Linked DNA regions of Homo sapiens: region 2 is linked to region 1. A link means that fine-mapping ties the variant in region 1 to the expression of a gene that starts in the linked region. Tissue or cell type: whole blood. Region 1 holds a variant in brackets; the other region holds the start of a gene. All regions are shown on one strand. Distances are from middle to middle.

Region 1 (5,210 bases):
ATCCGGAGTTTCACCATGTTGGCCAGGCTGGTCTCAAACTTCTGACTTCAAGTGATCCATCCGCCTCCGCCTCCCAAATTTCTGGGACTACAGGCGTGAGCCACCTCTCCCGGCTCCTCCATCTTCTTCTGTCCCTTTAGTCCCGTTTTCTCCACCTCCCCAGCACTTTTCCACTTCCTTTACCTTCACTTGCTCTATTCCTTCATCTCCCTTTATTCCTTTGTCTATTTCTATTTGTTTTCTTTCAACAACTTCCTTTGTCTCCCACCCTTGGATTCAGTAACATCTTGTAAAATTCCTGTTTCATTCAGAAGCTCTCTGAGTCCCCTTCATACAATATTCATCATCTATTTCTCAATCCAATGACTCTCCCTCCCTTTTCTCCCTCTTGTCTCAGCACCACCACATATGCCTCACTCATAAGGGGCCGCCCACAGTGGAGGGCAGGGGAACTACTGGATGTCTCAGGCATCCAGCTGCATCCAGTGTCTTCCTTGTGCTGAACTTGTGCACCTGATAGCTATTCACCCATGCAGCAGTCAACACCAAGAGCTTTTTAAGTTAACTGTCATTAAGAATGGGTACTGCAGGGCACAAATAAATTGTGAGATCCAGATATAGGCTTTGGACTTAATAGTTGAATTGTGGAGGGAAAATATAGACAAGGAAAATCCATTAACACGATGATGTATTAAATGTCATGTGAAAAATAATTGGCAAAGAATCTTATTACAGAGTGGAAGAGAGGATATCTTTAGATTAAGAGAATTCACACAGGTGAGTAATTGCCATTGATTATTCCATACACTGTTTTAGGAACTTTATATCTATCATTCTACTTAAGTCCTCAGAAAATTCTACAAAGCAGGTATTTTTATTTCTACCTTACAAATTCCCGTGAAAACTGAGGCCCAGAAAGATTAAGTAAGTTACTCATGGTCAAATCACAATGAAATGAAAGACCTGAAATTTGACTTCAGATGTATCTGACTCCAAGTGTCTTCCCACCACTATATGAATCTTTGAAAGGCAGGTTGTATATACTTCTGGATGGCGTTAAGATTTCAGGAATGTATATTCCAGCACCCACTTGTAAACGATCCAGAGACAAGACAGCACCTAGTATAATGGTCTACACATAAGGATGCTCATCATATGGGCCTAAAACCTTGGTTCTGAGCCCCTGAGCCCTGAAAGGGAAAGTAGTGACTTCATGTATCTGTGTCTGTGGTTCATTTTCTTCAGGTGTATGGAGAAAACACCATGGAAACAGGGAACCTCACGTGGGTATCAGACTTTGTCTTCCTGGGGCTCTCGCAGACTCGGGAGCTCCAGCGTTTCCTGTTTCTAATGTTCCTGTTTGTCTACATCACCACTGTTATGGGAAACATCCTTATCATCATCACAGTGACCTCTGATTCCCAGCTCCACACACCCATGTACTTTCTGCTCCGAAACCTGGCTGTCCTAGACCTCTGTTTCTCTTCAGTCACTGCTCCCAAAATGCTAGTGGACCTCCTCTCTGAGAAGAAAACCATCTCTTACCAGGGCTGCATGGGTCAGATCTTCTTCTTCCACTTTTTGGGAGGTGCCATGGTCTTCTTCCTCTCAGTGATGGCCTTTGACCGCCTCATTGCCATCTCCCGGCCCCTCCGCTATGTCACCGTCATGAACACTCAGCTCTGGGTGGGGCTGGTGGTAGCCACCTGGGTGGGAGGCTTTGTCCACTCTATTGTCCAGCTGGCTCTGATGCTCCCACTGCCCTTCTGTGGCCCCAACATTTTGGATAACTTCTACTGTGATGTTCCCCAAGTACTGAGACTTGCCTGCACTGACACCTCACTGCTGGAGTTCCTCAAGATCTCCAACAGTGGGCTGCTGGATGTCGTCTGGTTCTTCCTCCTCCTGATGTCCTACTTATTCATCCTGGTGATGCTGAGGTCACATCCAGGGGAGGCAAGAAGGAAGGCAGCTTCCACCTGCACCACCCACATCATCGTGGTTTCCATGATCTTCGTTCCAAGCATTTACCTCTATGCCCGGCCCTTCACTCCATTCCCTATGGACAAGCTTGTGTCCATCGGCCACACAGTCATGACCCCCATGCTCAACCCCATGATCTATACCCTGAGGAACCAGGACATGCAGGCAGCAGTGAGAAGATTAGGGAGACACCGGCTGGTTTGAGAGTGACAATGGTAGGTTTCTTCTCTTTGGCTTTGTTTTCCCTTTGTGAAGTGGAGAGGGAGCTACTACCTTTGCTCTCTTCATAGTGTGTTGAGGTTCATCATAGCAGGGAATGAATTTTGAAACTAAGCAACTTCGTGTTTTAGGAAAAAAGAAAGTATCCTCTTTGGTGGTTAAGGTTTGTGATAAAGAGTTTTAACACACTCGCAACAATGAGAATTGTTCACATGGCCCCTGAAAAC[C/T]ACACCTTCCTTTTCACCTTCTTGGTGGACAGTTTCCTGTTGACAGCATTTCCCCTGTGCGAACATTTCTATTTTCCGTATTTTGAGCTCTCTTCCCAATATTTCCTTTTGGTGTGAGTCTGGGTTGTTGGGAACAGCACAGAATTTGGAGTCTTAAGCTCTAAATTAGAGGCCCTGACCCATCATTGACCAAACTGATGACTTCGAGTAAGCCACCCAGCTTTTCTTGGCCTCATGATTTCTCCCTCACCAATTTGCTTAAATTAGTATGTGCCCCTAAAATATTCTATGTTTGTTATGAGATTCAAATAAAAAAATTTTGTGATAAAACAACAAGTAAATCATATAACTATATGTTATCTTCCAAGCTTTTAAAAATGATTGTATTTTATTTTCAAATATGAAATTATTATGAGTATTCAAGCTTTTTCTCTCTATATTTACATTTTAATATAATATACAAATTTTGAATAAAAGATCATGGGCAATGCATGCACATTATGAAACTTATGTCATTATGTATAAATGCTCATGTATACACTACTCGATTCAAGAACCAGAAGTTACCAATAACTTGCCTTCACCTGTATTGTCCTCTCCATTGTGTTCACCTTGATTCCTATCCAGAAGAAATCACTCTGTTGAATTTCATGTTTATCACTTCATTGCTTGTATAAAATAGTTTCATCACTTTTTTTACATAAACAGTATATTGTTTTGCTACTTTGGAGTTTTATAAAGATATTGTACTGTACATAATATTCTGGGATTTGCTTTTTTCACTCCATGTTATGTTTCTAACATAACATGTTGATGTTTGGCTCTAATTCATTCATTTGCTCTGCTGTAGAATATTCCACTGTGAAAATAAGTTTATTTGGGTTGTTTCCAGGTTTTGGCTATTGGAGAGTGCTTTTTTTGAGACGAAGTTTCACTCTGCTGCCGAGGCCGGAGTTCACTCATCACCACACCCAGCTAAGTTTTGCATTTTCAGTAGAGATGGGGTTTCTCCATGTTGGAGTTGTGACCATTATTGCCTAAACTATTTTTACTGCGCCTTTCTCTCCTCTTCTTCCAGGATTCTCATTATGTGTGTGTCTTGGTATCCTTGATGGTGTCTCACAGGCTTCTGAGCCTATGTTCATTTTCGTTTATTCTTCTTTTTGCTCCTTAGACTGGATGATTTCAATTGACCTATAATATCTCTAGACCTCTGATTCCGAAATGCCATCATAGAGGAAAATTGGATTCACTCCCCGACTTCCACAGAACCAAAAACAAATATATAGCACTGAGATCTACACCAGAAACAACCCAGAGCTCAAGTATAAGAGTGAGACAGTTCTTGGGGCCACAGAGGGATGAAAAAAGTCCAAGCAGCTGATAGGAGAATCAGACTTCCACATCTGGGACACCCCTCATCCCCATTCTGTCCAGCACCAAGTGCCAAAAAATCTCCTCCCAACTACAGTTTCTACACTGGAAAAACTGAAATTGAGGTGGCCCACCAGCTTCCTTACCTTCTTGGGGTCCCTGGCAGGAGAACTGTTCTTGCCTTAATCCACAGATAGCATCATGACTGCCTGAAAGAAGAAATGTCCCCGAAGAAAGGCAGAGAAATTCTGCTCTGTAACTCAGCCAAAGGAGACACCAACTCAGAGTTGCTGTCCAGCAGCACCATGCTGTAGGAGGCATGTTCCCCAGGTCCCCTGGGCACAAACCCCTAGCCAGACTTCCCACACTGCCAGGATAATCTCTTTGGGATCTCCTTGATTTGAGACAGGAAGTGCTTCAACCATTTACTAGTCCTGAGGTGAACCTGGGCTTAAGGCACCACCTAGAGTCGAATAGAGGCAGTGACCTAGCAGTGAAGATTCAATAAGCAAATGTATTCAATAAAAACCAAAACAAGCTGTACAGAGAAAACTGGAAAGATGGATACATACCCACAAGAAACAACAGCAAACAGGGAACTATGACTTCCTCAAAAGGAAAAAGCAAAAATCCAGTCACTGATCCTAACAAGATGGTGATTAGTGAGCTCTCTGACCAAGAATTCAAAATAGGAGTTTCAAGGAAACTCACTGATCTCCAAGAAAACACAGAAAAGCAATTTAGAAATTTAACAAAGAGACTGAAATGATTCCAAAATGTCAAACAGAAATCTTGGAACTCAACTAACCTATCTTCAGATTCATTGATTTTATTTTTATTTTTTAAGACAGTCTCACTCTGTTGCCCAGACTGGAGTGCAATGGTGTGATCTTGGCTCACTGCAACCTCCGCCTTCCAGTTTCAAGCAATTCTCCTGCCTCAGCCTCCTGAGTAGCTGGGGCTACAGGCGCGTGTCACCACACCCAGCTAATTTTTGTATATTTAGTAGAGACAGGGTTTTACCATGTTGGCCAGGCTGGTCTTGAACTCCTGACCTCGTGATCAACCCGCCTCGGCCTCCCAAGGTGCTGGAATTACAGGTGTAAGCCACCAGGCCCAGCTGATTCTTTCTTCTACCTACTCGAAAGCTCCTATTGAAACCGTCCTGTGAACTTTTCATTTCAGTTACTTTTATTGTACTTTTCAGCTCCAGACTATTTCTTATTTTAAATCAATTTCTCTCTCTTTTTTGATATTTTCTATGTAAAACATTCTTCTTCCTTTAATTCTTTACCCATAGTTTACTCTATGTTCAAGAAAGTTGCTTTAAAGTCTTTGTCTAGTTAAGTCAAATGTCTGTTTTTTCTCAGGAAGTTTCTGCTAATTTCTTTTCTTCCCTTGAAAGGG
Region 2 (5,118 bases), 22 kb before region 1:
AAAAAACAACACAATCCAATTATATGCTGCTTACAAGAGACTTATTTTGGCTCCAAAGACAAAAATAGGTTTAAAATAAAAGGATGGAAAGAGATATTCTGTGCAAATAGTAGCCAAAAGAAAACTGGAGCGGGATCAATAAGAAAATACGGGACTTGAAAAATATTATAAACTGACTAGACTTAAAAGAGATTTACAGAACACCCAAAGACAACAGAATGTACATCATTCTCAAGTGCACATGAAACAATCTTCAGGATTGACTATACGTTAGGCCATAAAAAATTTTCAATAAATATTCAAAGATTTAAATTATACAAAGTATCTTCTCTGACTACAATGGAATGAAGGAATCTACAACAAAGGAAAAACTTGAAATTTTGCAAATATGTGGAGGTTAAACAACATACTCTCCAACAACAAATGGGCCAAAGAATAAATCAGCAGTGAAATCAGAAAATACTTTGAAGTGAATGCAAACAAAAGCACAACATACGCAGGGTGCAGTGAAAGCAATACTTAGAATTTTATAGCTGTAAAATCCTACATAAAAAAGGAAAAACGTCTCAAATCAATTATCTAACTTTACACTTTAAGGAACTAAAAAAAGAAGAGCAAACTAAAACCAAAGCCAACAGAAGGAAAAAAACAATACAGATTAGAGCAGAGATAAATGAAGTAGAGAATAGAAAAACAATAGATACAATCAATGTAACCAAAGTTAGTTCTTGAAAAGATAAACAAAATTTATAAATGTTTAGCTAAACTAAGAAAAAAAGAGAAGAGGCAAATAAATAAAATCAGAAACATTACTACCAACCTTACAAAAATTAATAGGATTGTAAGAGAGTACTATGAGCACTATATGCCAACAAATTGGCTAATTTAGATTAAATGGAAAAATTCCTGGAAACACAAATTACCAAAACTGATTTCAAAAGAAATAGAAAGTCTCAACAGACCTATAACAAGTAAATGTTGAATCAGTGTTTAAAAAACCTCCCAACCAAGAAAAGTCCAGTACCAGATGGCTTTAGTGGTAAATTCTGCCAAACATTTAAAGGAGTATGAACACCAATACTATGCAAGTTCTTGTAAAAAAAAAAAAAAAAAACAGAAGCAAAGGGAACACTTTTTAACACATTCTATGAGGCCAGCATTATCTTGATACCAAAGCCAGACAAAGATACAAGAAAAGAACTACAGACCATATTCTTTATAAATACAAATGCGAAAATTATGAGATGCCACTTCACTCTCACTATTCTAAGTAAGATGGTTATTCCTCAAAAGATTAGGCACAGTTGCTATAAAATCCAGCAATTCCACATCTAGCTATATACCAAAGAAAAATGAAAGAATACATCCACACAAAATCCTATACATGAATATTCCTAGCAGCTTTATTCATAATAGCTAAAAAGTGGAAAGAACTCAAATGTCCGAGAGCTGACTGACTGATTTACAAAAGTGGTATATCCATATGATGTAATATTATCCAGTCATAAAAAGGAATGACTGGTACATGACTAGTACTGGTACATGCTACAGTACAGATGAAACTTAAAAACATAAGTGAAAGAAGCAGGACACAAAAGCCATATATCATCATATGTGTGTTATATGATTCAATTTTTAGGAAATGTCCAGAACAGGCAAATCCAGAGACAAAAAGTAGATTAGTGGTTTCCAGAGACTGAGGAGAGAACAGAATGGGCAGTGACTGCTAAAGGATATGAGATTTCTTTTCAGAACGAAGAAAATGTTCTGGAATTAGGTAGTGGTGATGGTTACACAAGTTTGTGAATATACTAAAAACCACTGAATGGTTAAAATCATTTAATAATTGTGAAGCTTATGGTAGTTGAATTATATCTTGAGGATGAACTTAGCCAATTTACATTGAGAGTTCACTTTGGCTGAGAGAAGAGCAGATCAGAGATTGGGATAAGAGATGGTACCTTAATGACTGTACATATGAAAAAGGCTTTGGAGTTTATAGAGGGGGTGACCTGGACTGTGTCCTAGGACATAACTCACTTTTCCAACTACAGTGGTGATAGGAGAGGGTGGAGGCCTTGCACTGCCCATGGTGCTGAGGGATTTGGTTCTTGTAAACCTCCCTGGGAATTCACGTCTCTTTAGGGTTCTTATCCTTCTTCATCTTGGTCCTTTGATCAGTAACTCTGAAATGTTGGCCCCAAGACAGTCTCCCAATAATTATGTGCATCTGATGCAACATCTCACATACTTTTTAATAACTCCCATTGCTCATTTGCCCTTAGCAGCCTGAGCCAGGCTTTATCTTATGAATTAAGCCTAAGTTTTACTCCCCAAGGAATTTCCCTTTCCTTAAGGCCAATCCCATATGTGTTCCTTGTCTGAGAGAGGCCAGGAGAAGAATGGAGCTACAGGAGAAGAGTGACCTGGGAGATGGGAGGCTCTAAGTCCTCTTGGCCACTGTGGGCTGGAGGAAGGTGATGGCCTCATTGTCCTTCCCATGGACAAATCAGCACGACAAAGCCTATCGTGAGACAAGCATGGGGTGGAGGGAAGGCATGGGGGAAGTCATCAGGCATTAATGCAAGGGGAACGGGATTTGGGAAACATTGATTTTATCTAACATTAAGACTTTTGTCTGTATTGGCTTATGTGCTGGGTGGAATTTAGAACAGAGGGTGGGAGGGAGAGCGGAATATAGACATACACTGTTATCTCCCCCGCCTCCCACATACATACTACAGCTTCTTCCCACACCTAGGAGAAAACACAAACAGGTCTTGCTCTGACACTTTCCACCCTCTACTGTTCCTTTTTAAGTCTCATCTTCCTCCATCTTCCCCCTTCTCCTGCCTGCTTCTCTCACTCACTCCAGATTTTCTTCCCTTCTTTATTGCTGTCCCTCCATCTTATCCTCTCTTTTCTTAAATCTTGTGTTTAACAATACCTGTTAATGCTCCCTGGATGACAACAGACTAGATTCTACCCCATTTTGGGAACCCACTTATTCCTTCTCCCCTCGTCTCTCCTAGTCCTGTGTGGGCTGATTTTCTAAGAGCAAAGACAGATGGGAGAGAAGATTGAGTAACAACAGAAGAGGTCTAGAATCCTCCCCTTTCCCCATACAGATCCATGTCCCTCCCTATGTCTATTTTCTTTCTTGTCTAGAATCCCTCTAAATCTATTTTCTATGCATGTAGGGGGAGGAAGCATTTGCAAAGATTCTGATGGGTTTGTGGAAAGAATCGGGCCATGCTAAGATGATGCTTCTAGGATTGTAAATCTGGTGATGCTGGGAATTAGGATTCTTGGATTCTCTTTGAGGTCCTATAAACTGCATTCTATCCAGTGGCTACTCTCTCTTTCTTCCCAGCTCTCACGGCAGTCTGGCCCATCCCAGCACCCTGTCCTCCATTAAGCAATCACACATTCTTTTGGGAACCAACTATGAGAAAGGGTCTGTGTGTACCACGTACTGTGTAATACTTAACATATTGGATTTGCACTGAAATTACAACACATGTGAGGAACAGAGCCATCCTCATGAAAAAATACCAAGGCATAGCAACATTATGGAAGAGCTAATTACTCTTGAACCTTGAAGGAAGGGTAGAATTCAGACAGGTGAACAGGACAGAAAAGCAATTCAGATGCGGCACTGACTGGATGAAGGCACTGAGACCTGAGGGACCGAAGAAGAGATAAGTTTGGCTGAAGCTGAATCTTCTTAGAGGAGAGCAGGTAAGAGGAGAATAGTCATTAGGAGTGCAAATTCTGGGTCAATCAGACCTGGCTCAGAATCCCAGCTCTGCTTCTTCTTCTCCATGTGATCTGGGAGAAATTAGTTAACCTATTCAAGCCACAGTTTACTTATCTGTAAAGTGGAGATAATTTATGGTACTTACTATACTTATAAACATGGGAATAATATGTGAGAATTAAAAAAGATAATGCCAGCAAAATATTTAGTATAGTGTCTATCACATAGTAAGCATTCAAAAAATGTTTACTACGATGACAATTACTGCTATTACAACAATAAATGCTTACTACCACAGTTATTACCATTACTACAATTACAATAAATGCTTACTACTACTACTATTAAGTGGCAGATGGACCTGGAAAGAAAGGTAGGAGCCTGTTTGTGTGGAAGCCCCTGAAATCCTAACTAAGTACAAATTCCTTCCTGTAGACAATAAAGAGCCATGGAAAATTTTTGAAAACCTTTTGAAATAGAGGGGGAAGATGTTGTTGAAGAAGTTTATGTATGTACTATGTTGCACAGTGTGGATTAAAATGGACCAAAACCTGGAGGCAAGAACCCACTTGGAGGCCCACAGCAATAAGCCAGATAGGAAAAATAATTTGGCAGTAATTTCAAAGGAAGAACGAATATGCCTTGGTGATAATACATGTGGAGTTCAAGGGAGAAGTCTAGCTGGGTGAGGGGATAACAGACAGAAATAGGAGAGCCAGAGAGGTATTTGGGTTTAGAGTAAAGAAGTAGCAAGAATGATTTCATAATAATGACAGGCAGCTCACAGTGCCAGATGGAGCTGAAAGAACCCACGGTTACTGACGGGCTTTAGCCATTACAGTGACACTCAAACTGAAGAACTGGTTATGAGGAGGGGAGGAATCCAGCGGTTCTGCAACAGTCCTGGGAATCACGGTCTCCTTCTCTCCTCTCTTTTACAGAAGAGCTTTCCCTTTTCCCACACTGCGTCTCCTCCTCTTTTTCTCTCTCTCCCTTTTCCTCAGTGTTCTGAGGTTTCTCCTTCCCCGAACCCTTCCCCTTGCACACCTGCGGTTGTCTTTCGCCCCGACAGTGCTCATGCTAAGAAGTTTTTCAGCTCTTACCTTTTCTTTTTCTTGGTCTCATTATAATACTTCTTTTGCTTTTTTTGATTAAAATTTTATGACAATTTATAAATTACAAGAAATAAAAAAAATTTTGTAAAGAAGAGAAAATATATGTTCCATCAATCCCATCAACCAGAGATAACCACTATTCACACTGGTAACATTTTGGTTTTCCATGTCCATTTTTTCCCTTTATATTTATACTATAGTTTATCAAAATATTTTGTAATTCTCTCTTTAAAACAACAATAC

Evidence for each region. PIP is the estimated chance that this variant, and not a neighbour inherited with it, causes the effect.
Region 2: it holds the start of OR4D1, and the variant in region 1 is the best candidate, but not a certain one, in a credible set for the expression of OR4D1 in whole blood (TOPMed, PIP 0.81).

The regions. Positions count from the first base shown.
Region 1 is chr17:58,168,393-58,173,602 of GRCh38, forward strand. OR4D2 (olfactory receptor family 4 subfamily D member 2) reads left to right here. Exons shown (of 2, transcript NM_001004707.4): 2 at 1,246-2,724. The coding sequence starts at 1,264. The coding sequence ends at 2,187. Among named protein-coding and RNA genes, the nearest start is that of OR4D2, 4.0 kb to the left of the region's middle. The variant C/T (reference allele first, on the strand shown) is at 2,430.
Region 2 is chr17:58,146,056-58,151,173 of GRCh38, forward strand. It overlaps OR4D1 (olfactory receptor family 4 subfamily D member 1), which reads left to right and starts at 2,329. Exons shown (of 4, transcript NM_001386095.1): 1 at 2,329-2,529; 2 at 3,374-3,741.